Linked DNA regions of Homo sapiens: all the other regions are linked to region 2. The links come from fine-mapping of genetic effects on gene expression. A gene starts in region 2. Each other region holds a variant in brackets. All regions are shown on one strand. Distances are between the middles of the regions. Region 1 overlaps TRPV1 (transient receptor potential cation channel subfamily V member 1). Region 2 holds the start of SHPK (sedoheptulokinase). Region 3 overlaps TRPV1 (transient receptor potential cation channel subfamily V member 1).

Region 1 (10,442 bases), 37 kb before region 2:
CTCGGGAGCTCGGGAGGCAGGAGCCTGGTGGGGACGGAGGGAGGTGGAGGCAGGGGTGTAGACAGCCCCTCTAAGGGAAAAGGTGGCCTCACACTCCCCAGAAGTCAGCCAGCCTGTGGCCCTCCCTGCCCTGCCTTGCAGCTCACTGGAGCTGTGCTGTGCTCTCCAAAAGCCTCCTGCCCTTGAGCTTTTAGACTTCAAGTCCAAGTGTCTGTGGCTGGTAGGCATTGCGGGCGTGGACACCTAGACCCAGCACAGACACCAGCCCCCGTGACTGCACATCCCACGAGGTCACATGAGGAAGGACGCTGGACCAGACCACCCCTAAGGCTCTCCAGCCCCCTGGCTTTGTGACATTTAGCCCAGAAGCCAGACCACCCTGTGGCATCTCCATGGCCAGCTGGGCTCCCAGCAGGGAGGGGGGCTCCAGACGCGGACTTACCTGGCACCGGTGGGGCCGTCTCCTGGCCTCTGGATGGTGATAACAGGGCTGACTGTGATGGTCGGGCAGGAGTCCAGCTCACCTTCCTCGTGAGGGCAATCCACCGGGAAAGCCTCCTCCGAGTCACCCTTCCCAAAGAGCCGGGTGCGGCTCTTGGCCGTGGAGAGCTGGGGCTTGGCTGGAGGTGGCCTGGAGTTAGGGTCTCCATCCAGGGGGTCTGGGCAGGTGTCCTTTTGGAGTGGGTCCGCAGCTGCCCCCAAGTCTGTGCTGCTCCATTTCTTCATCCTTGCTGGATCCTCTGTGGCCCAGTGTGCAACCTGCAGCAGCCACCACGCCGGGGTTGACTCCCAAAGTAAGGACTGCTTGTCCTTAGACCCCACCTGCCCTCCTTGCCAAGGGCCCTGTGAAGCAGGGTACCCCAAAACTCCAACTTGCTGCTGCCCCCAGCCCCCTAGAACTGAAGTGTTTCCAGGACTGAACCTCTCACCCCAGAGGCCTCAGAGGTGAGCAGGCCTAGCAGGGCCCAGGCAGTCCTGCGGCCACTGACGTCGGCCTGGGAGGGTGGACAGGCCCCCGGCTCAGAGCCATCTGTGGTTCTGGGTTAGACCCATCCCTCCTCGTCTCTGGGCCTCAGGTGCCTCCTCTGCAGGGTGAGGTTGATAACCACCGCGCTGCCTCCCTCCCCACACAGAACAAGGAAAACGGCCGGGGTGGCTGTCGTGGGCTGAATTCAGGGAGGATCTCGGTGATGAGGATGGCTCAGTCCAGAAGAGCCAAGCAGACTGTGTCCCTGGAATAGGGTGAGCGGCAGAGACTGGCCCACCCACACCCACACCGCACTGCGGGGCCCTGCTGTGCAACGGGTCCACACATCATCAGCCAGGTGCCCGGCCTGCCTTTGCTCTTCAACCTCGCTGCCACAGCCACTGAGCTTATACGAGATTTTGGATTTTGTGCTTTTTGTCATTTTTATGAATCAACATCTGTCAAGCATCCTGGCCTTGAATGTTTAGGCGTGTGTGTGTGTGTGTGTGTGTGTGTGTGTGTGTGTGTGTGTGTGTGTGTGTGTGTCTGTGTGTCTCACTCTGTCGCCCAGACTAGAGTGCAATGGGGCAATCTCTGCTCACTGCAACCTCCACCTCCCAGGTTCAAGCGATTCTCCTCCCTCAGCCTCCCAAGTAGCTGGGATTACAGGCGCCCGCCACCATGCGTGGCTAATGTTTGTATTTTTAGTAGAGACAGGGAACGTTTAGGCTTTAAGTGATTTGGAGCTGGTTGGTCTTCTAGGCCTAAACACCTAGAGATCAGCTGGCCGCTGGCAGCAGCATGTGTAGTTGGACACATGAGCTGATGCTATTTTCCACTCCCATCCTGCCCCATCCCCATGCTTCCCCTCCCTCTGGCTGGGCATCCCCACTCCCTGGCACCCAGGGGTGGCCCATACATCCCTCCCATAGCCTCTATTCCCATCGGGTCTCCACCTAAGGGCTTTTTCCTCTGTCTACCCTTGCACAAGTCCTATCACCACTCAGATGCTACTTCCCCTCAGGATCCAGCACTGATGCCGCCTCCTCCATGAAGCCCCCAGATCCCTGCCCTGCTCATGCTCCCCGCTGTCCTCCACACAGTGGCCCAGCCCACTGACCGCCTGTCCCACACAGCCTACCATGTGGTCCAGCAATTGCTATCTGTCACTGATTTATCTCTCCCGCACCCTGTGACCTCCTCCTGGGCAGGGACCTTTCCTGGTCCATCTCCTTATGAAGAAGCTGTACTGGCCTGGGCGCGTGGCTCACGCCTGTAATCCCAGCACTTTGGGAGGCCAAGGCAGGTGGATCACCTGAGGTCAGGAGTTCGAGACCAGCCTGGCCAACATGGTGAAATCCCATCTCTACTAAAAAAAATACAAAAATTAGCCGGGCGTGGTGTCGGGCGCCTGTAATCCCAGCTACTCGGGAGGCTGAGGCAGGAGAATCGCTTGAACCCAGGATGTAGAGGTTACAGTGAGCTGAGACTGTGCCACTGCACTCCAGCCTGGGCAACAGAGTGAAACTCTGTCTCAAAAAAAAAAAAAAAAAAAAAAAAAGAAGCAGCAGCAGCAGCAGCAGCAGCAGCTGCACACATGGGGAAATAAGAGCAATCAGACCCTTCTAATTGCCATTTCCATAGGAAGTTAGGGAGATTACTGTTCCAGCAGTGGCTACATTCCGGAAAACAGCCGCAGAAGAAATGAGAGGCTTCTCAAGTCCTGCATTTTCTTTTTTTTTTTTTTTGAAATATATAATCAGGCAATCTCCCAAGCCAGAATGGCTCAGAGAGACTCCCAAGTCCTACATTTTCAAGTTAAAATTCAGGCAGTGAAACTCCAGAGCACACAACTGGGCCATGGCTGTAAACCAGCTACGTTCTGAATCTCAGATCCATGAAAACACAGAGGCAGCCTCACCACTCCGCAGGCTGTGAACAGGACGGACGGCTGGCTACTGGCCATCTCCCTGCCTGCCTGTTGATCCACTTTCAACAGGCCTGAGTCTTTCTCTGACTCACCCATCAGGTGGACCCCCTGCAGCAGGAGTGTTCCCGGCCACAGAAAGCCGATTCCCTCATCTCATCACTCAATACCTATCTACTGAGTCCTCCTCCTCAGAGTCCAGCCCTGCGCTGGGGGCACAGAGAGGAGTCAGCTCCCCGCTGAGACAGAAACCAGGTACTGGCTGGGCGGAGGGACTGCAGGAGGGGGCAGGGTGCTGAAGAGGGGTCCATGGCAGTTGGTGATGGATGAGCTGAGCCTGGGAAGGGAACAGAGGTGGGCTAGGGTCTGGAGACAGACAGGGAAGCCTAGAGCAGCTGAAGAACGGGAAGTCAGTGGGACAGGAAGACAGGAGGCCGGGTTAGAACCAGATGGCCGTCAGCCTTAACTCCAAGGAATTGAAAGCCAACATGGTTGCATGGATGATGCTTTGGAAGCCTGGGGGGCCGGGTGCTAGTCTTCCCTTTCTGAAGATAACACCCCGTCAAGGACCGTTCACAGTGCGGACAGCCCTGGCAGCACTTAAAAGGCACCAGAAGCGAATGAGAAGCAGAATCGTTGATGCGTCTGAGCACGTGCACAAAGCAGACACGGTTCTCAGGACTCGCATTCCTTCACCCACTTCATTCCCACAACATCCCTAAGAGGGAAATACTTCACCGATGAGGAGACCGAGGCACAGAGCAGTTATGGCACGTCCCCGAGGTCACACAGTCAGAGATGGAACCCGGACTTGACCCCAGGCAGGCTGGCTCCAGAGCATCTCCAGTGCTCCACCACGATGCTGGAGGTCTGGGGCTCTTTCTCAGCAGTTCAACTCAGACCCAGACTCCACAGCAGGGCCTGGGGGCCAATCAGAATAGGCCCTCTCACCCAAGGGGCTAGGCATAAGACCTGAACCTGAAGCACCTCTCGCTCAAACAAGCAGCTCAGGAACCCCAAAATGCAGTGTGAATAAGACCCAGGTCATACCCATGCCTGGCTGTCCCAGGGATGTCTATGGTCTCCAAGAATAAGCTAAGAATAAGAATAGGGGCTGCTCGTTAGGCAGCCCAGCAAGAGAGCACCTGTTAGCCGGAGCCTCCCATGAACCTTTCGGCAATGTTCTTTGTCAGCGGCGTTGCCTTTTCCTCTGACGGGTCCCAGTCCAACCAAACCCAGCCAACAGGAAGCAGCCGGGATTGTGCTATCATTCAGTCAGTCGACAAACGCTGAATCTATACTGCACACTCTGCACCTGATTCCCTACTGGAAACCAAGCTTCTTCCAGGGAACGGGGTGGGACAGGAACTGAGGGGTCATGTGCCCTGGGCTGGGCCGGGGAACAGGGTCAGGACAGCCCTCCACTGCCAGGCCTGGAGTGTACCCTGCACCTAAGCCCGTGGTGATGCACCTGTCACCGCAAAACATTCTACAGTGATCAGGGGAACTTCTACCGTGATTTAGGCAAACGAGTGTTGGCTGTGTGATGGAGATGGTGATTCTGGTTTACACAAGACTCACAAACTCATCAATCTGGACTAAAGGACAATCCTAAAAGAATCGATTCTGCCCACAGAGACGTGGTATGATCTGAGTCTTTCTCAACTCCAAAGCCAGAACAGATACTGCCTACCCTCTGGGGGAAGGATCCCTTCTCTCCCCAATGCAAGTGAGACAACATGGGGTGTGGCTCCCCTGCTCCTCTCTCTGCCCAAAGCATCCATCCATCCATCCATCCATCCAAGTTCTTGGGAGCACCTCCCGCTCGCCACTGGGGACTTTCTGGAAGCTGGGAGAACGCTGGCCCAGGACCCAGCCAGATTATTCTCAGTAGTCCCTTCTGTCAAAGGGAGGCAGTAGGCTGCGGGCTTCCCAACCCAGGGGTGAAGAACAAAGAGATAGGACAGCAGCACAAGGACCCAGTGTGCCTGCTTCCCAGCCCTGCGCTCGTCCACTCCACAGAGAGGGCGACACGCTGAAAACCTCCGGCCACACACCAGCAATCTCAGCAGCAGCTGCAGCCTCCTCCCCCGAGGACGGCTGATGCAGGAGCAACAAGAACAAACCCCAGTAACAACAACCTCCACTCTCACCTCCCAGGTGCTTCCAAGGAGCCAGGCTGAGGGCACCACAAGTTCGCTTCAGCCTCACGACCACCTTTGAGGCAGCCACTCTTACTACCCCCCGTTTTCAGATAAGGTAACTGGGGCACAGAGAGGTGAGTGGACCTGCCCACAGTCGCACAGCTGGGAAGTGACAGGGCCCGGCTTTTGGCCACTCACTATGCCATCTTAAAAGCTAATGTCTGCATTGGCCATCAGACAAAGAAAGGGACTCACCAGCTAGACGCAGGCACACCCCAGGCCCACGGGTGCTTGTGAGCTTGAAGGCGGTTGCTACTCGAAGGGAGAGCTGGGCTCGTGTGGGAGAAGAGTGGTCTCCCCGCCTCCGTGGGGTCCCGGGCCCGGCCCTGGCAGCAGCTGCCCTGCACTAGCAGGAGTCGCTGTGGACGCCCTTCGGCACTCAAGGAAAAAACGCTTCCAGCGATGCAAGCAGCTGCCTTTGCTGCGGCTCTGATTCCCAGAGGATCCCAAAGCTTTTCCCATCATTTTTGCCCTTTTTCAGAAACCACTTAGCTGCTGCCCCTCCTCCAGCCATGCCAGGGCTGCAGAGCACTTACCAGAGCCAGCCAGAGCTGCAACCTCAGCTCTCAGGAAAGGAGGGCGCTGCTCGGCCTCTCAAACCTGTGGCTCCTGCCCCCGGAGGTCTGGGAAACGGCTCCACAAATGACATTCACAACCAGCGACGTCAAAACTAGCGTCCTGTAACTGTTCCGTTTTCAAAATAAAGAGGGAATGGAGGGTCGTGCTGCCCGCCACACAGTACTGGCCTGGCATTAGGGACTTGTTTTGAGAGTCCGAGCAACCTTGAACTAGTCCCTAACTCTCTTAGGCCTCTCGTTCCTGGGTCCCCAAACCTGGAGTAGGGGTTGGCGTCGAGGGGGTCTTCTGGGTCAGCCAGGTCCCAGCCTTTCTTCTCAACTGGGGGTTCCTCAGGGAACCACAAAACACAGATAACTATCAGTGTCATTTCCTTTTTTTTTTTTTTTTTTTGAGACAGAGTCTTACTCTGTCGTCCAGGCTGGAGTGCAATGGCGCGATCTCAGCTCACTGCAACCTCCACCTCCCAGGTTTAAGCGATTCTCCTGCCTCAGCCTCCCGAATAGCTGCAATTGCAGGCACCTGCCATTGCGCCCAGCTAATTGTTGTATTTTTAGTAGAGTCAGGGTTTCGCCATGTTGGCCAGGCCGGTCTTGAACTCCTGACCTCGTCATCCACCTGCCTCGGCCTCCCAAAGTGCTGGGATTCCAGGCGTGAGCCACTGCGCCCGGCCACAAGTGTCTATTTTCTCTCTTCACTTCATACCACCCTAAATGCACAGGAGAGAAGACCCACAAGAGAGAAACGCACAGGAGAGAGTCACATACAGCAGATAACTAGAACAATAGGTTTCATTCTCTCCCAGACCCTGGCTGAGAAAAACAGTGAGGTCTAGGTATGCATCCAGGCTGCGGCCCAAATGCCCTGCAAAAACCATCCTAGCAGCTGCCTGCGGGACGCCAACAAGCCGTAGGGCAGGTCCAGCCTGGAATAAGCAGCCACTGCCAGGGAGGCCCTCGTAACCCTGCCTGGGGTCGCTTGAAAGCTCTGACCCCTGAGTCAAGGCATTGAAGTGTGGCCACCCCATCAATTCCGCACAGCAGTTGACAAAGAGCTTTCCCAAACCCGCTCTCGCAGGCCGTACAGCAACCCCGGGCAGTGGGAGGGCAGAGACTGTCATACCCATTTTACAGGTGAGAAATGTGTGACGCTGGGCAATTAGACAACCGATAATTAGATAATTGCCCAGGCCGCACGTTGGTCTAGGCATAAAAGCCAGGCCCATCCCACCACGCCACACCCCACCATACCCCTCGCTTAGTCACTTTTTTTTTTTTTTTTTTTTTAGATGGTGTCTCGCTCTGTCTCCCAGGCTGGAATGCAATGGCGCAATCTCGGCTCACTGCAACCTCTGCCTCCCAGGTTCAAGCAATTCTCCGGCCTTAGCCTCCCAAGTAGCTGGGATTACAGGCACGTGCCACCACGCCTGGCTAATTTTTGTGTTTTCAGTAGAGGCTGGGTTTCACCATGTTGGTCAGGCCTGGTCTCAAACTCCTGACCTCAAGTGATCCACCTGCCTCGGCCTCCCAAAGTGCTGGGATCATAGGCGTGAGCCACCGCGCCTGGCCGCTTAGACACCTGTTTATGCTATGTGTGTCATGTTAGCTTCAATTAATATGAACGTTAGAATTCATTCTTGTTTATAAATTGTGGCAAAAGGCCGGGCGCGGTGGCTCATGCCTGTAACCCCAGCACTTTGGGAGGCCGAGGCAGGTGGATCACCTGAGGTCAGGAGTTTGAGACCAGGCCTGACCAACATGGTGAAACCCCATCTCTACTAAAAATACA[G/A]AATTAGCTGGGCGTGGTTGTGGGCACCTGTAGTCCCAGCTATTCGGGAGACTGAGGCAGGAGAATCACTTGAACCCGGGAGGTGGAGGTTGCAGTGAACCAAGATCACACCATTGCACTCCAGCCTCGGCAACAAGAGCGAAACTCTGTCTCAAAATATATATTTATATATTATAATAAGTTGTGGCAAAATATATATAACAAAATTTACCGTATTAACCATGTTTAACAGTACAGTTCAGTGGCACTCAGTGCATTCACACTGTTGTACAACCATCAGCATCATCCATGCACAGAACTTTTTCATCATCCCAAACTGAAACCCTGCACCCATTAAACACTAACTCCCCTTCCCGACCCCAACCCCCTAACGACCACCATTCAACTTCCTGTCTTTATGAATTTAACTATTCTAGGAGTCCTCTGGTCAGGAATCATACAGTATTTGTCTCTTTGCTTTTTGTGACTGGCTTCTTTCACTTAGCATAATTTCCTCAAGGTTCATCCATGTAGTAGCCTGTAAGAGAATTTCCTTTTTTTCTTTTCTTTTTTTTTTTTTCGAGATGAAGTCTCACTCTGTCCCCCAGGCTACAGTGCAATGGCGTGATCTCAGCTCACTGCAACCTCCACCTCCCTGGTTCAATCAATTCTTCTGCCTCAGCCTCCCGAGTAGTTGGGATTACGGGTGCATGCCACCACACCCAACTAATTTTTAGTAGAAATGGGGTTTCACCATGTTGGCCAGGCGGGTCTCGATCTCCTGACCTTGTGATTCACCTGCCTCAGCCTCCCAAAGTGTTGGGATTACAGGCATGAGCCATCACACCCAGCCCTCCTTCCTTTTTAAGGCTGAGTAATATTCCACTGGGGCGTGGGATGGATGGACCACATTTTGCTCATCCATTCACCAGCTGATGAACACTTGGCTTGCTTCCACCTTTGGCCATAGTGACTAGTGCTGCTATGAACATAGGCGTGCAAATATCTGGTCCTGTCCCTGCTTTCCATTCTTTTGGGCACATATAGACCCAGAAGTGGGATCTGTCATATATAAAAGACTCAGCAGTGGTGACCTCTCAACTTTCTAGTCCTCTGGGATCATTTCCTTCTAACAATGTGGGATAGAGCAATGGCTGGGAAAGGGGATGGTCATGCTTCTTCTCCAGAACCATTGCCTTAGCCTCCAAAGTGATTTCTGCCTCCAATAAAGACAGCACGGAGCCGGGCACGGTGGCTCAAGCCTGTAATCCTAGCACTTTGGGAGGCAGAAGTGGGCGGACTGTCTGAGGTCAGGAGTTCAAGACCAGCCTAGCCAACATAGTGGAACCTTGTCTCTACTAAAAATACAAAAAATTAGCTGGGCGTGGTGGTGCACGCCTGTAGTCCCAGCTACTCTGGAGGCTGAGGCACGAGAATCACTTGAACCTGGGAGGCAGAGGTTGCAGTGAGCTGAGATCACACCACTGTACTCCAGCCCGGGCTACAGAGCGAGACTCCATTTAAAAAAAACAAAACGAAACAAAACAAAAGACAGCACCATTTCCAGTGAACACAGCACACATCACTAAATGTGTCCTGTCCTCTTTGTTAACAGAGCCCTTGGTGCTAACAGTATCACCGGAGTCTACAGGGCACAGTGCCTGCTCAGAGGCCTGCAGGGGAAGTCCCGGCCCTCCTCCTGCCCTGGCCACTCCTGCCGGGACTCCCTGGCTGCTCTCCTCTTCTTGCCGTTCCCCACACCTGGGGGTCCAAGGACCCCGTCCGCAGCCTTATCTTCTCCAGCTCCACCACTGTCCTTGGAGACCTTCGCCTGGCCCCTCCCAAGGACCTCTCTGATGTGTCCAAGTCAGCGGCTGCTTCATCCAGAGTCCACCCAGCCCTCTTCCCTGAGCTCCATCCCTGCCTCCCTGAATCTGCAGGTGAAGCCCACAAGCCCCCTCCCCCCAGCATAACCCACAATGGGCTCCTGTTCCCTCCACATTCACTCCCCTCCCGCTCCCTGCAGCAGTCCCTGCCTGGAAAGGCATCAACTTCCTTCTGGCCACCAAACCCGGTGCCCTTTGTGACCTCCAGCCTCTCCTTCTCGGCCCTCCCTGGGCTGTTTCTGTGGCTTCCGTCCATCCCTCCTCTACCTGGGAGCCCCTTCTTCTCACCTGAATGACCAGAAGTGCCTCCTTTCCCTGGTCCAACCTCCCACAACCCCTCACCTCCAGATCAACAGTCCTGGAAGCTCATCCTGATCAGGCCCCCTTGCCTCTCAGGGGTCCCCACTGCTGAGCAACGCCCCACCCCCGCACCCTGAGCCCACAGACCCAGTCTCCTCTCCCACCGAAACCCACCTTCTGTCACCTGGGCACACCCCTTCCCAGCCACACTAAACGTGCTGACTCCACCCTTTCCCCCACCCTCCTCCATCCCAGTACCCCACTTAACCCATCTTCAAGTGCGAGGTGAGCCCTAGGGATGCTCAAATCCCACCTTCTCCCAAAGGCCCCAGCATAAAGAGCTCATTTCTCACCTTTTTTTTTTAAAGAGGTGGTATCTTGCATTGTCACCCAATGCAAGGGACTCACAATCATAGCTCACTGCAGCCTCCACCTCCTGGACTCAAAGGATCCTCCTGCCTCACCCTCCCAAGTAACTGGGACTACAGGTGTGCACCACCACGCTCGGATTTTTTTTTTTTTTTGGTAGCAACAGAGTCTCGCCATCTTGCCAGACTGGTCTCAAACTCCTGAGTTCACGTGATCCCCCACCTCAGTCTCCCAATATGCTGGGATTACAGACATGAGCTACCACGCCCAACTCCAGAAGTGCTCACTTCTAAACTCCTACAGGAACTTCAACCAATGCGCTTCCTATGGCAACGGGCACAGTACTCATGGCCACAATGATGACAACAGTAATGGCTGTGAATATGTGTTGAGTGCGTACAACGTCCTGGGTGTTGGCATGAGCACTTTATATGCACTATCTCATC
Region 2 (10,680 bases):
GCCTCCCAAAGTGTTGGGATTTACAGGTGTGAGCCACCATGCCCGGCCTTAAAAAGTTTTTTTAATGCCTTCCATAACAGGGAGCTCCCAACTTCCTGCAGGAGCCTCATCCTTGGGCATTCTGCTGGGAAGTCTCTCACTGAGCCACTGTGTCCCCTTGCAGCTCTGGTCCTCCATCAAAAACAACCCTGCCAGGCCTTTAAAAGCTCCTCGGACAGACTTGGATTCAAAAGTGGGGTTCACCTGCTGAAATATGACCCTGAGCATATTATTCTAACCTCTCTGAACCTCAACCTCTCATCCACACAATGGGGACAACAGTGTAATCTATGTCACCAGGTTGTTGGGAATATCCGACGAGATCATGCAACTGATGTCCTCAGCCAGGCACCAGGCATGTGAAGTGCTCATTGTGGTTTTACTGTCTTAGGTTCTCCTCCTCAAGGCCAAATAGAACAGGTTACCCACCTCCGCACTGTGGCAGATCTTCATAAGACAACCAACTAGAAATGCTTAGCAACTGAACCCATAAAAAGGATATGCCGGCCGGGCATGGTGGCTCACACCTGTAATCCCAGCACTTTGGGAGGCTGCCGGTGGATCATTTGAGGTCAGGAGTTCGAGACCAGCCTGGCCAACATGGTGAAACCCCGTCTCTACTAAAAATACAAAAATTAGCTGGGCGTGGTGGCAGGCACCTGTAGTCCCAGCTACTCTGGAGGCTGAGGCAGGAAGACCACTTGAACTCGGGAGGCAGAGGTTGCAGTGAGCTGAGTTTGCGCCACTGCACTCCAGCCTGGGTAACAAGAGTGAAACTCCACCTTAAAAAAAAAAAAAAAAAAAGATATGCCCTGGAATTTTCAAAATCACAAATATGTAAACAACGACAAATGTGCCCCAATTCAAAAGCATGCCCTCCATGTCCTGGCATCTCCTGCAGCTATAGCCAGTCTCTCGGTTGTCTGCACTAATGTTCTGAGATACTGACATGGTAAAGAGAAAGCTATGGAAAATGCACTCTGCTGAATCCTTCAGGAGAATCCGAGAAAACACTCTCTTCCCTCTGCCTGTTCGTGGATAACGTGCTGATGATGTGGGAGTGGGCAGTTCCTTTGTTCACCTAACATTGGTACAGAATGCTCACCCACGCAGGAGGCAGCACGTATTCGTCCACTCCAAGAAACAAGACCCTATTCCCACTGCAGGATAACCCGACCCTTCACAGAAAGCCCCGCACAGCACTGCTCTAGTTCTGGAAGTGACTGCTACCAGCCTGAGAGCATCCCCGAGCCCAGCATACCTTGGCCTGTTTTCCAAAACACGACTCCATGCATCTGGCCCGACACCCCGATGCCCACGACGCTCCGGAGCTGGGGTCGGGGAAGGGCAGCAAGGCACTCGTGTAGGGCTTGGAGGATTCTACTCACATCCTGCTCCCGCCCCTGGAAGCAAAAGAGAACACATGGGCAGGGGCAGACACACAGGCAGGGGGAGGGGCGCAGGCCTCCCGGGATGTCCTGGAGGAGGAATGCAGTGGGCAGCATCCACTCCCTAACTTCACAGTTGAGGCACTGCTGCAGGTGAGTTGCAGCAAACTGCCTGGGCCTGCCCTCCACTGGGGTCAGACTCAGCTGAGAACAGCATTCTCTGTGCTATAAATAGAAGAAATAAGGCCAGGCACTGGTGGCTCAAGCCTATAATCCCAGCACTTTGGGAGGCCAAGGTGGGTGGATCACCTGAGGTCAGGAGTTCGAGACCAGCCTAGCCAAACAACATGATGAAACCCCGTCTCTACTAAAAATACAAAAAATTAGCCGGGTATGGTGGCATGCACCTGTAATCCCAGCTACTCAGGAGGCTGAGGCAGGAGAATCGGTTGAATCTGGGAGGCGGAGGTTGCGGTGAGCCGAGATCACGCCACGGCACTCCAGCCTGGGTGACAAAGTGAGACTCCATCTCAAAAAAACCAACTAGAGGAATCCACAGAAAGTTCAGAAGAGAAGAAGGGGAAGAGAATTGTGGCTCAGCTCTCAATAAATGTCAGCTCTTTGAGGAACTAGCAAAGCTAAGGTCTTAGAAAGGCATCTGAAGGCTGAGTTCTCAGACGTCTTGCTTCCCTCCCGGGAGTGCTGTCTTCCCCTCCTCGGAAAACCTCTCGCTTGCCCCTGTCAGCCTGCGGCCTTGGTCAGGGGCAGCTCTTGGCTCCTAACAAGCAGGAACAAAGAAGAGAAAGAAGGGAGGAGAGGAGGGGTAGGATGGGGCAGGGAGTACAGGGGAAGCACAGCCTTTTCCTAGGAAGCAGCCCCAGAGCTCAACAAGGATTCTACATGCAAGAGAGGCCACAGCCAAGAGGAAGTGGAAGACAAGAGGCACAGAGGAGCCAGGTGGCTATGCAGGATCACCAGAGGGAGGAAAGAAGAGCAGGGTGGGGACATGGGGGTGGGGGGCAGGAAGAAGGGTTCTGGGAATAGACATTTGTTTAGACCCTCACTGTCCAATACTGAAATCGTTAGCCACTTGTGGCTAGTCTGAATTGACATGTAAATGTAAAACATGCACCGGACTACAATTTAGTATGACAAAAAATATACACTATCTAATTTAATGCTTTTTTTTTTTTTTTTTTTTTTTTTTTAGCGATAGAGTCTCTCTCTATTGCTCAGGCTAGAGTGCAGTGGCATAATCTTGGCTCACTGCAACCTCTGCCTCCCAGGTTCAAGTGATTCTCCTGCCTTAGCCTCCGGAGTAGCTGGGATTACAGGCTCACACCACCACGCCGGGCTAATTTTTGTATTTTTAGTAGAGACGGGGTTTCGCCACGTTGGCCAGGCTGGTCTCAAACTCCTGGCCTCAGGGATTCACCCACCTCGGCCTCCCAAAGTGCTGGGATTACAGGTGTGAGCCACCGCACCCAGCCTTGATTATCACACATCAAACTGATAATGTGCTGGATACACTGGGTTAAATAAAATATGCAATTAAAATTAATTTCACTTGTTTATTTTAATAGGGCTGCTAGAAAATTGAAAAGGCCACGCCTGGCTCCATTTGTAGGTTACATTTCTTTTTTTTTGAGACGGAATCTCACTGTCACCAGGTTGGAGTGCAGTGGTGTGATCTCAGCTCACTGCATCGTCTGCCTCCCAGGTTCATGCGAGTCTCCTGCCTCAGCCTCCCAAGTACCTGGGACTATAGGTGCGCGCCACCACACCCGGCTAATTTTTGTATTTTTAGTAGAGACGGGGTTTCACCATGTTGGCCAGGATGGTCTCGATCTCTTGACCTCGTGATTCGCCCGCCTCGGCCTCCCAAAGTGCTGGCATTACAGGCGTGAGCCACCGCGCCTGGCCTGCAGGTCATATTTCTACTGGACAGAGCTAGTTTAAAGAGTCCTCCCAGCTGGGCGCAGCGGCTCACGCCTATAATCGCAGCCACTGGGAAGGTTGAAGCAGGAGATCACTTGATCCCAGAACTTTGAGACCAGCCTGAGACCAGCCTCAGCAACACAGTAAGACTCCACATGGCCATGGGGTGGTGTGTCATCCCAGGACAGAGCTGCTGTTTCAAATGGTCCCAGGGTGAGTGGGTGCGTGAGTTGTGTGGGGGGAGACACGGGAAGAAGTAAGCAGGCTGGATGTGGTAAAGACAAGGAGGCAGTGTTCAGCAGTTAGAAACAGTTTTAGGGGCGGGTGTGATTGGGGAGTAGCTCTTGGACAGACCCCCAGTGTAACAGGAATAGACATTGCCCCCACTCCTTGGCTCAGAATATCAGTTGGTCTACATCCACGTCGAATCCTCGCGCTTTAGACTTGCACACAGTACTTAGAAGCTCATTAAATCCTACTCCTCAGGCCTCTTTTTACAGCGGAGGAAACTGATGCCCAGAGAGGAAAAATAAATATAAACTGTGAAAGGGTCACAGAACTGCCCTCGAAAACCTTGTATTTTAAATGGGCAAATACCAAAAACTGATTGTCTGCACAGCTGCCAAGCTTGACCCTGGTATAGCTAATACTTATGAGTGAAAAGTATGAACTTGAGGAAAGAACACAGCCAGCAGATATTACTTTTTTTTTTTTTTTTTTTTTTTTGGAGACAGAGTCTTACTCTGTTGCCCAGGCTGGAGTGCAGTGGTATGATCTGGGCTCACTGCAACCTCTGCCTCCCGAGTTCAAGCAATTCTCCTGCCTCAGCCTCCCAAGTAGCTGGGATTACAAGCACGCATCACCACGCCCGGCTAATTTTTGTTATTTTGTAGTAGAGACAGGGTTTCACCATGTTGGCCAGGCTGGTCTCGAACTCCTGACCTCAAGTGATCCACCCACCTCCGCCTCCCAAAGTGCTGGGATTACAGGCAAGAGCCACCGCGCCCGGCCACAGATATGACTATAGATCACTGGTTCCTACTCGGGGTGGTCTTGTCACCTAGGGAACATTTGGCAACATGGAGACATTTTTGGTTGTCACATCTGGGGAAGAGGGGCAAGCGTGGCTGGCATCTAGTGGGCCAGAGATGTTGCTAAACATTCTACAACATGCAGGACACCCCTCACACAACAAAAACTATGCAGCCCAAAATGTCAGCAGCACCAAGGTTGAGAAACCCTGCTATATAGACTAACTCACAGCAGTGCTGTTTGTCCCAGAGCACGATTCATATGTGGTGTGGGGGGGTTAATGACTGGCCTCCGCTAAGCACTTCATTAAATAGGTGTGACACACTGGGTGAGCCTGTAAGCACAGAACAGCCTGCTGAAAGCTGGGGAGGGAGGGCAGAAAAGTTTTCAAGAAGTGGCCGTGCTGCCGCCCCTACTGGGAAGTGAGGAGCCCCTCTGCCCGGCCACCACCCCGTCTGGGTAGTGTACCCAACAGCTCATTGAGAATGGGCCATGATGACAATGGCGGTTTTGTGGAATAGAAAAGGGGGAAAGGTGGGGAAAAGATTGAGAAATCGGATGGTTGCTGTGTCTGTGTAGAAAGAAGTAGACATGGGAGACTTTTCATTTTGTTCCGTACTAAGAAAAATTCTTCTGCCTTGGGATCCTGTTGATCTGTGACCTTACCCCCAACCCTGTGCTCTCTCAAACATGTGCTGTGTCCACTCAGGGTTAAATGGATTAAGGGCGGTGCAAGATGTGCTTTGTTAAACAGATGCTTGAAGGCAGCATGCCCGTTAAGAGTCATCACCACTCCCTAATCTCAAGTACCCAGGGACACAAACACTGCGGAAGGCCGCAGGGTCCTCTGCCTAGGAAAACCAGAGACCTTTGTTCACTTGTTTATCTGCTGTCCTTCCCTCCACTATTGTCCTATGACCCTGCCAAATCCCCCTCTGCGAGAAACACCCAAGAGTGATCAATTAAAAAAAAAAAAAAAGTGGCCATGCTGGGTGCGGTGGCTCACACCTGTAATCCCAGCACTTTGGGAAACCGAGGCAGGCAGATCAGTTGAGGTCAGGAGTTTGAGACCAGCCTTGCCAACATGGTGAAACCCCATCTCTACCAAAAATACAAAAAAATTCTCCAAGCATGGTGGCGCACACCTGTAATCCCAGCTACTCGGGAAACTGAGGCACGAAAATCACTTGAACCCGGGAGGCAGAGGTTTCAGTGAGCAGAGATTGCACCACTGCACTCCAGCCTGGGTGACAGAGCGAGACCCTGTCTCAAAAAAAAAAAAAAAAAAAAAAGAAGTGCTCTATTTCAGGAGAAACTGGCACTTTCTGAGCCTACTCTCCCCTAATGCCAGCTCTCCTGCTCACCCCACCAGGGTCAGAGCCAACTTTGCCTCCAATTCATAGTCCTTTAAGTAAGAATCCTTTTAATATGCCCTAATGTCCCAACCAAACTAATCTTGAAAGCTTCTATGTAGATACAAAGTGCTCCTGAAATCCCTATCCTCAGAAATGCTTCTGAGCCAAATGGGCTCTGAACCCTAAACAACCGTGTCCATGTATGTGGCAAGAGCTTGTGAAAAACAAAGCTGGGCCAGGCGCAGTGACTCACAACTGTAATCCTAGCACTTTGGGAGGCTGAAGTGGGCAGATCACTTGAGGTCAGGAGTTCAAGACCAGTCTGGCGAACATGGCGAAACCCTGTCTCTACTAAAAATACAAAAAGTAGCCGGGCGCGGTGGCTCACACCTGTAGTCCCAGCTACTCGGGAGGCTGAAGCAGGAGAATCACTTGAATCCAGTTGGCGGAGGTTGCAGTGAGCCCAGATCACGCCACTGTACTCCAGCCTGGGCAACAGAGCGAGACTTGGTAAGAAAGAGAAAGAAAGGAAAGAATGAAGGAAGGAAGGAAGGAAGGAAGGAAGGAAGGAAGGAAGGAAGGAAGGAAGGGAAGGAAGGGAAGGAGTCTCGCTCTGTCACCCAGGCTGGAGTGCAACGGAGCGATCTCGACTCACTGCAAGCTCCGCCTCCCGGGTTCGCGCCATTCTCCTGCCTCAGCCTCCCGAGTAGCTGGGACTACAGGCGCCCGCCACCACGCCCCGCTAATTTTTTGTATTTTTAGTACAGACGGGGTTTCACCGTGTTAGCCAGGATGGTCTCGATCTCCTGACCTCGTGATCCGCCCGCCTCGGCCTCCCAAAGCGCTGGGATTACAGGCGTGAGCCACCGCGCCCGGCTGACCAAAGGTTTCTTGGTCCGCATTCTGCTTCTGTGGAATGAGCCAGGAGCCAGTTAGGCCTGATTTGACATCTGATTTCCGGAGGAAAACCCAGACTCTGCCCTGGGCAACAAACTGAATCCTGAACTTGAGGTCACAGGGCAGGTGTGAGGAGCGGAGAGCAGCAAGAGTGAAAGGGAGGCCTGTGGTCATTCCATACACACAAGAGATCAGTTCCTCCAAGGTCAGGGGACAGAGAGCACAGGGATCCAGCGCCAAGCGCAAGGCCCCCAGAAGAAGCCAGAGAGTCGGGGAGGGGGCGGGGGGGAATCGGTCCCAGCAGGTGGGAAGGATTCTGGGACCAGACCTAAGGGATCATGAGCACAGCTGCTGCAGGCAGACGGGCCCCTGGAGAAGCTGGGGACAAGCTGGAATAGAGACTTCATTGCGGGAAGGGCTGTCAGGGAGGCCTCCTGGGGTGGAAAAGGGTGGTCAGGAGGCTCCTGGAGGCGGCGCGGCCCCGGGGGTCCAACTCACCTGGGGCCCGGCCACCGCGCTCTCGACCGCCGCCTCTGCCCGCGCAGCACGGGCACAGCTCGCCAGCACTGCGAACCCGGATGGGTCGTCGGGCGCGGCCCTCAGCAGAGCTGCCTTCACAGATGTGGTGCCCAGGTCAATGCCGAGGGTGATCGGCCGCGCAGCCATTATCTCCCTGACCCGCGCAGCTCCAGTCTGCAGCCAGCGGCCCCACAAGTCCGCGCTCTTCGCCCAGGGGGGCGGGGCAGGGGCGGGGAGTCGCCTGCCAATCTTTCAGCCACACCCAACATGGAGGCTTCTCGTCTTCCCACTGGCCGGGGAAGGCGAGCTTCCACGCAACCTCTCGGCGGGCCCCGGCTATAGGCGGAGAGGCGGCGGAAGGCGGGACCTAAAGGGGGCCCCGCCCCACGGGCTCTGATTTCCGCCCAATGGAGGGCGGTCTGAGCTTCGCTCACGAAAGGAGCCGGGAGGCGCTGGCGGCTCCAAGAGTCTCTGTGTCCCTGGCAGCGGACCTCATCTTCCCTCACGCCGGAGCCCCGATCTCTGCGCCCCGGCCCGACCCAGCTGCGCTCTGTCCGTCTAAGACGCGCGGAAACTACAACTCCCAGAGCTCATCTCGCCGAGATCCGGCCCCACGAGTCAGGTGGCGGAGGTCAGGTGACAGCGGACCCGCCTCTCCCAAAGTCTAGCCGGGCAGGGGAACGCGGTGCATTCCTGACCGGCACCTGGCGAGGCTCATGCGTCCCGTGAGGGCGGTTCCTCGAGCCTGGGGGCGCTCAGGTGAGAGCGGACGCGGCCTCCCCTGTTTCCCAGGCGGACCCCTTGAGGCACAGCAGGTCAGCGGGGCAGCCTGCCGGGGGTCCAGCGCCCTCAGCCGCGGCGGGCTCCTTTCCCCGCCACCAGTGCTGGCCTCGCGACACGGGACAACCCCCGGGTGGAAGGGCCCGAGCGGTGGTCAGCCGAGGCAGGGGCAGCGGGCTGCCGGGGTGGGTGCCGTTCCCAGCCCCTTACCTTCTGCTCAGTTGCCGCCTGGGTCTCGGTTGGGGAATTTGCAGATTGCTTTGGAGACGCTGAGAGAACCTTTGCGAGAGCGCCGGTTGACGTGCGGAGTGCGGGGCTCCGGGGGACTGAGCAGCACGAGACCCCATCCTCCCCTCCGGGTTTTCACACTGGGCGAAGGGAGGACTCCTGAGCTCTGCCTCTTCCAGTAACATTGAGGATTACTGTGTTTTGTGAGAGCTCGCTAGGCGCCCTAAGCAACAGAGGTAACCACTTTATATCCTTGTTTCTCAACCTCGTTATTCCTACCTACCCCCTTCCCATAAAATTTAATACCACTAGTACGCTGTGTATTTGTTTCTGTGGCCACAAACCATTGTAATAGCTAGATTTCTTCACTACCACCCCAAGCCAATTTTTTTTTTTTTTTTGAGATGGAGTCTGCAGCCTCTGTCACCCAGGCTGGAGTGCAGTGGCGCGATCTCGGCTCACTGCAACCTCCGCCTCCGGGGTTCAAGCGATTCTCCTACCTCAGCCTTCCGAGTAGCTGGGACTACAGGCCTGAGCCACCATGCCCAGCTAATTTTTGTATTTTTAGTAGAGATGGGGATTCACCATGTTGGCCAGGCTGGTCTCGAACTCCTGACCTCAGGTGATGCGCTCACCTCGGCCTCCCAAAGTGCTGGGATGACAGGCGTGAGCCACCGCGCCCAGCCTACCCCCAGCCAATTTTAGTCCCACTTGACAATGCGTGCTTTACATCTCCTCATTTAAGTCCTGTGAGGTAGTTACCACCTCCTTGTTTGGCACCACAAGGTCGCATAAGTAATAAATAGGTCAAGCCTGTCTCCAGTGCACACAGCCCTTGCCACTATTTGTGTACCCTCTCCAAAAGCAGGAGACCCAGGGAGTTCCAGGTCGTAGAACAGAGGACAGGACCAACTCATACCTGGCAGACAGGAGCTGCCACACTAGACCCCTAGCCCCAGGTTGCTCCTGGGAAGGGACTGAATGGGTGAGGAGCCTTCTTGAAACATGTGACATCTGAATGAGGCCTGGACAATAGTTAGAACTTACATAGGAAGGGCACGCCAGACAGAGCCCATTGTCAGGAGATACTTCATTTCTATCTTGTAGCTTTCACAAGCCACTAGTTGTATGTAATTATCAATCTGGTTTTTTTTTTGTTTTTTTTTTTTAATTTGAGACGGAGTTTCACTCTTATCACTCAGGCTGGAGTGCAATGGTGCAATCTCGGCTCACTGCAACCTCCACCTCCCGGGTTCAAGCGATTCTCCTGCCTCAGCCTCCTGAGTAGCTGGGACTACAGGCACATGCCACCACGCCTGGCTAATTTTTGTATTTTTAGTAGAGACGGGGATTCACCATGTTGGCCAGGCTGGTCTCGAACTCCTGACTTCAAGTGATCCAACTGCCTCGGCCTCCCAAAGTGCTGGAATTACACACACGAGCCACTGCGCTCAGCCTAATCTGATGTTTTTTAACATTTTAATTGACTTACCTCTCAATGTCGTTTTGTCTCTGCTGGCATCGTTCCTCCAGGGGTCTCAGCCTTTGAGGCTTGGGAATGTTTGCTGACCAAGTCTGTGAGTTTGAGAAGCTGGTTAGGCCTGATTCTGCATCTAATTTCTGGAGAAAAACCAGACTCTGTCCTGGGCAACAAACTGAATCCTGAACTTGAGGCCACAGGGCAGGTGTGAGGAGCGGAGGGCAGCAAGAGTGAGAGGGAGGCCTGTGGTCATTCCATACACGCAGGAGGGCAATTCCTCCAAGGTCAGGGGACAGAGCACAGGGATCCAGCGCCAAGAGCAAGGCCCCCAGAGGAGGCCAGAGAGTAGGTACGGGGTCATTCCCGGCCGGTGAGAAGGGTCTCAGATGAGGCAGACCTGCAGCAGGCAAAGAGAGAACCCTGGAGGAGACGGGCCAACAGAGGTCAGACAGCTGGAGCAGCCAGGGAGACTTCTTGAGGAGTGTGTAAGGGAGATGTCCGGAGATGCTGGAGGCCTTGGGGAAACTGAAATCAGAGTGGGAACAGGGATGTCTCCACACAGACCTTACCCAGAGCTCCCCACAGTCTGCAGGAGGCCCGTGAGACTGTGTACTGAGGCAGCACGGAGACCAAGCTACAGAAATCCATGCCGGCCTGGCTGCTCTTGACCCACTGTTCACCTGCTGTGTCTTGGGTTTACAGGAATGCAGCTCCCCATCTTCCACACTAAACCAAGGACTTGCTCTGGGGCTCATCCCTCCCCGAGTCCTCCTTGTGAATGACCCCAGCCAGTCCTGGAATGGTGACACTTGTCAAATAAAGTCTTGACAGGCGCGGTGGCTCCTACCTGTAACCCCAGCACTTTGGGAGGCTGAGGCGGGCGGATCACTCGAGGTCAGGAGTTTGAGACCAGGCTGGCCAACATGGTGAAACCCCATCTCTACTAAAAATACAAAAGTTAGCCGGGCATGGTGGGGGGCACCTGTAATCCCAGCTACTCAGGAGGCTGAGGCACAAGAATTGC
Region 3 (5,344 bases), 29 kb before region 2:
CGGGTGGATCGCCTGAGGTCGGGAGTTCGAGACCAGCCTGGCCAACATGGAGAAACCCCGTCTCTACTAAAAATACAAAATTAGCCAGGCGTGGTGGTGCATGCCTGTAATCCCAGCTACTCGGGAGGCTGAGGCAGGAGAATCACTTGAACCCAGGAGGTGGAGGTTGCATGAGCTGAGATCACGCCATTGCACTCCAGCCTGGGCAACAAGAGCAAAACTCCATCTCAAAAAATTAAAATTAAAATTAAAAAAAAAAAGAAAAATACCCTCCTTCCTGCATTTCGTCTCTGTGTTCCTGTCACCGGGTGCCCAAGAGTCTAAAAGACCAGCTTCCGTGGAGGGCAGCGGTCTGCGAGCCGGTCAGCACCCTCCAGAAGTGGCTAGAGCTTGAAGTCTGAGCTGGGGAGGGGTCAGACACCCAGTCAGCACAGAACGCTGGAGCCCCGCTCTGCAGAGCTGTGTTCCAGGGCAGGGACTGGGAACAAGAGGGACGAGGGCCAATGGAGGGTCAGCAGGTGGGTAGAACCTGGACCTTGGATGGAAGAGGCCCGCGTGTGCTAGATGCCGGCTGTATGGACTCCGGCTGGTAGCTGAACCTCTGGGTCTACTTCTTCCTCCACAAAATTACAGCCAAGAACACCTGCCCTACCTGCTTTACGAGGCTTTTCTGGGATTAGTCAGGATAGTGGGTGTGAATGGGCTCTGAGCCTGGTAAAGCTCTAGGCAGGCATGAGAGATGACTGCTCTCATCTTCATTATTTCAGCCTGAGGACCACATCTGCTGACTGCTGAGCTGTATCCGGCCATTAGCTCGAAGTTATGACTAATTGTTTTTTAATGAAAAAAACAAGGTTTGCTTAATGTTTGATGAGTCACGCAAGTGAGCATCTCTGTATCAGGACTCTCCCACTTTCAAAGACTTGGCCTGTCCATCTACCTGTGGCTGAGGGGAGAGGCCAGGTGAGACCCTCTCTCCTGAGGGCCCACCATGTGCTATACAAATCCCCTAGCAGAGCAGTAGGGTCAACAGGGTGGTCTCTGCGCTCAAGAAGCCCACGATGGACAGGAAAGGAAGATGTGCACAGGCTCTCTCTTGACACTAGGCAGGGCAGGGCACCCTGTAACAGGCACAGGCCAGGGGCTCTGGGGCCAACAGACCATGCCAACAACAAATGTTGAGCCGGGTCTTGGCCTCCCCTGCAGTTGTAATCAGATGGCGTATGTGTCACCAGGGAGGCCCTTTGCAGAGGGCAGATGCCATTTGGGCTGGGCCTTGGACAAGGAGAAGGATTCTGCCCCACAAGGAGGACATTCCAAACATGGGCCTTGGCATGAGCTAAGGTGCAGGAGGACAGGGCTGAGGACACCTAGGCACCTGCTCTCAAAGAGCTTTCAGTCCACTTCAGAAGAAGAGAAAAATAGGCCAGGCGTGGTGGCTCATGCCTGTAATCCCAGCACTTTGGGAGGCTGAGGCGGGCGGATCACCTGAGGTCAGGAGTTTGAGACCAGCCTGGCCAACATGGTGAAACCCCGTCTCTATTAAAAATACAAAAATTAGCTGGGTGTGGTGGCAGGCACCTGTAATCCCAGCTACTCAGGAGGCTGAGGCAGGAGAACTGCTTAAACCCAGGAGGCGGAGGTTGCAGTGAGCCAAGATCGCACCACTGCACTCTAGCCTGGGCAACAGAGGAAGACTCTCAAAAAGTCTCAAAAAAAAAAAAAGAAAAAGAAAAAGAAAAAAAGAAGAAGAAGAGAAAAGTAGAGAACATGAAAGCCACATACACATGATGTGGACGGGGTCAAGGCCCAGAGGCAGGCAGTGTGTGGCGGGAGGAAAAGCAGCGGCTGGTGGGCTGGAGTCCCCTACCCTGCCCTGAACTGGGTCTGGCCCACCATCTCTCCAGGCTGTTTTACAGCCTCCTGTCTCCCAGAACACCCTTCCTCCAATCCAGCGTCCACACTGTCAGCTACACTCCCAAGGCCCCAGTCCTCCAAACCCCACTGTCTACAGGAGACAGTCCAATCCCCTCAGGCGGGCATGCAAGACCCTTCACAGTCTGCCCAACACGTCCAGCCACAACTCCTATAAACATCCTTCCATTCACACTATGACCAAGTTACACCAATTTGTCACACTCTGGACATGACGATCACTTTAATGTAAACACATTTACCTAGCCTGACCCCACTGCCTAGTTGCTAAAGAGAGTGGGTTCGCTCTGGGGTTTGAATCCTAGCACTGTGATCTCAGGTAAGTTACTTAACTTTTTTGTTTATCTATCTCTCCATGTGTGAAATGGGGATAACACTACCCACCTTCTAGATTAAATGAGGCCTGGCATGGTGCCTCATGCCTATAATCCCAGCACTTTCCGAGGCCGAGGTGGGTGGATCACTTGAGGCCAGAAGTTCAAGACCAGCCTAGGCAACATGGCAAAACCCCGTCTCTACTAAAAGTACAAAAAATTAGCCAGGTGAGGTGGTGTACACCTGTAATCCCAGCTACTCGCGAGGCTGAGGCATGAGAATTGCTGGAACCCGGGAGGCTGAGGTTGTAGTAAGCTGAGATCGCACCACTGCACTCCAGCCTGGGTAACAGAGTGAGACTCCATTTAAAAAAAAAAAAAGATTCAATGAATTCAAACAAGTAGAGTTTAGATCAGATCCCAGTACACAGCAGGTACTCAAAAAGAAATGTTAACTGTCGTTAGTAACCATGGATGGAAACCCTTGGAGGTTTAGCTCAATGTGACTTGTGTAAAGAATGAATTTCTCCTCCCTCTGGGCATAGAGGTGCTGTCATTGTCTGTGTCTTTTTCTTTTCCTAGGGTCTGTTTATGTAACCAACTGTTGGTATTTTTCCATTGCCTCGTGATGGAAATTCAACGGGGGGCAGTCTCTGAGAGAACACCCAGCTACTACTGGGCGCTCAGAAAATGTGGCTGCCTGGGTCTGTGCTGGGTGCATGG[G/C]AGACGTCCCAGGTGCAGGCTACTGAGGCTGCTCTGCTGTGGTGACAACCCCCAAATCTCAGTGGCTTCAAACATCAAAGGTTTATTATTTATTTATTTATTTATTTATTTTAAAGACAGAATCTCGCTCTGTCTCCCAGACTGGAGTACAGTGGCATGATCTCAGCTCACTGCAACCTCCGCCTTCCAGGCTCAAGCGATTCTCCTGCCTCAGCCTCCCAAGTAGCTGAGATTACAGGTGCCGACCACCATGCCCGGCTAATTTTTTTGTATTTTTAGTAGAGACGGGGTTTCACCATGTTGGCCAGGCCGGTCTCGGAACTCCTGACCTCAAGTGATCCGCCCTCCTCGGCCTCCCGAAGTGCTGGGTTTACAGGTGTGAGGCACTGCACCAAAGGGCGCTTACTTCTCTGTCCCACTGCACGTCCCTCGCTGGTTGGTGAGAACTCTACACCACACTGTCCTCACTCAGGGACCCAGGCTGACAGAGCTACCACTCTCTGGGGCACTGCCAGTCACTTGTGGCAAAGGGAAGGGTGTGTGGCAAGTAGCTCACTGGCTCCTAAAGACCTCTGCCCAGGAGTGACAGGCATTCCCTGTGCACGTCCCACTGGCCGAAGCGGATCGGGGGGAAGGTGCAGCCCTGCCGTGGGCTCATAGCATCGGGATACTGACGGCCAGCAAAGGAGCCCCGCTCACCACTTCTTCAGAAGCATGCCGGCCTCAAACCACTTACTGGCACCTCCTGGGAAGGAGGGTGGGTTGTGCACGTGGTTGTGACTTCAGGCAGCTGCACTCATCCCCCACCTAGACGGAGGCTCCAGGCCTCAGGCAACGGAAGCAGCAGGAGCAGCCCTGTTTATTGACAAACTGGGACCCTCCAAGGCTCAGTCCTCAGAGGCAGAGTGAATGCATAGTCTGGAAAGAGGACAGAGAGTTCCGGGGCCACACCAGGCACAAGGCTGGGCTGCCTGAGCTTGCTGGATGTCCATCCCGTTCCTAACCTTACATTTGCAGACCCCATCCACTGCATGCTGGGCAGGCGAGACAGGCTGCCACTCTGAGATTAGACGGCCTGGCTCCTCCCAAAAGACAAAGGACGCTGGTAAACTCAGCCTACTCTTCTCTCTCATGCAGCCTTCCTCAGGGCTGCAATGACAGCATCTTAAACTCATTTGGCTGAAAGAAAAATTACAGTAGCAGGCCAGGCATGGTGGCTAACGCCTGTAATCCCAGCACTTTGGGAGGCTGAGGCAGGTGGATCACCTGAGGTCAGGAGTTCAAGACCAGGCCAACATGGTGAAACCCCATCTCTACTAAAAATACAAAAATTAGCCAGGTGTGGTAGCACATGCCTGTAATCTCAGCTACTCGGGAGGCTGAGGTACAAGAATTGCTTGAACCCGGGAGGTGGAGGTTGCAGTGGGCTGAGATCGCACCACTGCACTCCAGCCTGGGCGACAGAGGGAGACTCTGCCTAAAAGAAAAAAAAAATACAGTAGCCCCCTGTCATCCACAGGAGATATGTCCCAAGACCCTGCATAGATGCCTGAAACCAAGGCTAGTATTGGATCCTGCATATGCCATGTTTTTTCTACACATACATATCTGTAATATAATTTAATTTACAAATTAGGCACAGTAAGAGATTAACAACAACAATAAAGTAGAACAATTTTTTTTTTTTTTTTGAGGCAGAGTCTCGCTCTGTCACCCAGGCTAGAGTGCAGTGGTGCGATCTCAGCTCACTGCAACCTCTGCTTCCAGAGCTCAAGCGATTCTCCTGCCTCAGCCTCCTAAGTAGCTGGGATTACAGGCGCGTGCCATCATGCCCAGCTAACTTTTGTATTTCTAGTAGAGACGAGTTTTCACCACGTTGGCCAGGTTGGTTTCAAACTCCTGATGTCAGGTGATCCACCCGCCTCGGCCTCCCAAAGTGCTGGGATTACAGGTGTGAGCCCCCACACCCAGCCAAAGTAGAACGGTTTTAACAATACACTCTAATAAAAGTTATCACACACTGTGACCATACTTTTGCAGTTTGAGGTGTGACAGCAAAACTGGCATGAGGCTGGGGTCAGTGGCTCCCGCCTGCAATCCTAGTACTTTGGGAGGCCAAGGTAAGTGGATCACCTGAGGTCAGGAGTTCGAGACCAGCCTGGCCAACATGATGAAACTCCATCTCTACTAAAACTAAATTAGCCAGGCGTGGTGGCAGGAGCCTGTAATCTCAGCTACTCAGAAGGGTGAGGCAAGAGAATCGCTTGAACCCGGGAGGCAGAGGTTGCAGTGAGCCAAGATTGCACCACTGTACTCCAGCCTGGGTGACACAGTGAGACTATGTCTCAAAAAAAAAAAAAAAAAGGCAAAAA

The links. PIP is the estimated chance that this variant, and not a neighbour inherited with it, causes the effect. A credible set is the group of variants that fine-mapping cannot tell apart.
Region 1: its variant is the best candidate, but not a certain one, in a credible set for the expression of SHPK in blood mononuclear cells (TOPMed, PIP 0.61).
Region 3: its variant is fine-mapped to the expression of SHPK in whole blood (INTERVAL, PIP 0.96). The same link has a PIP of 0.9 or more in vagina.

The regions. Positions count from the first base shown.
Region 1 is chr17:3,591,625-3,602,066 of GRCh38, forward strand. It overlaps TRPV1 (transient receptor potential cation channel subfamily V member 1), which reads right to left. Exons shown (of 17, transcript NM_080704.4): 3 at 443-759. The coding sequence starts at 726. Among named protein-coding and RNA genes, the nearest start is that of TRPV1, 13 kb to the right of the region's middle. RefSeq lists an enhancer at 2,686-3,186. The variant G/A (reference allele first, on the strand shown) is at 7,463.
Region 2 is chr17:3,628,905-3,639,584 of GRCh38, forward strand. It overlaps SHPK (sedoheptulokinase), which reads right to left and starts at 7,346. Exons shown (of 7, transcript NM_013276.4): 1 at 7,148-7,346; 2 at 1,301-1,442. The coding sequence starts at 7,315. It overlaps CTNS (cystinosin, lysosomal cystine transporter), which reads left to right and starts at 7,856. Exons shown (of 12, transcript NM_004937.3): 1 at 7,856-7,927; 2 at 8,203-8,412. It overlaps LOC105371493 (a long non-coding RNA gene), which reads right to left. Exons shown (of 6, transcript XR_007065579.1): 6 at 9,593-10,181. RefSeq lists enhancers at 4,898-5,763, 7,602-7,851 and silencers at 7,062-7,121, 8,132-8,221.
Region 3 is chr17:3,602,892-3,608,235 of GRCh38, forward strand. All of the region lies in intron 2 of TRPV1 (transient receptor potential cation channel subfamily V member 1), which reads right to left. Among named protein-coding and RNA genes, the nearest start is that of TRPV1, 3.8 kb to the right of the region's middle. The variant G/C (reference allele first, on the strand shown) is at 2,973.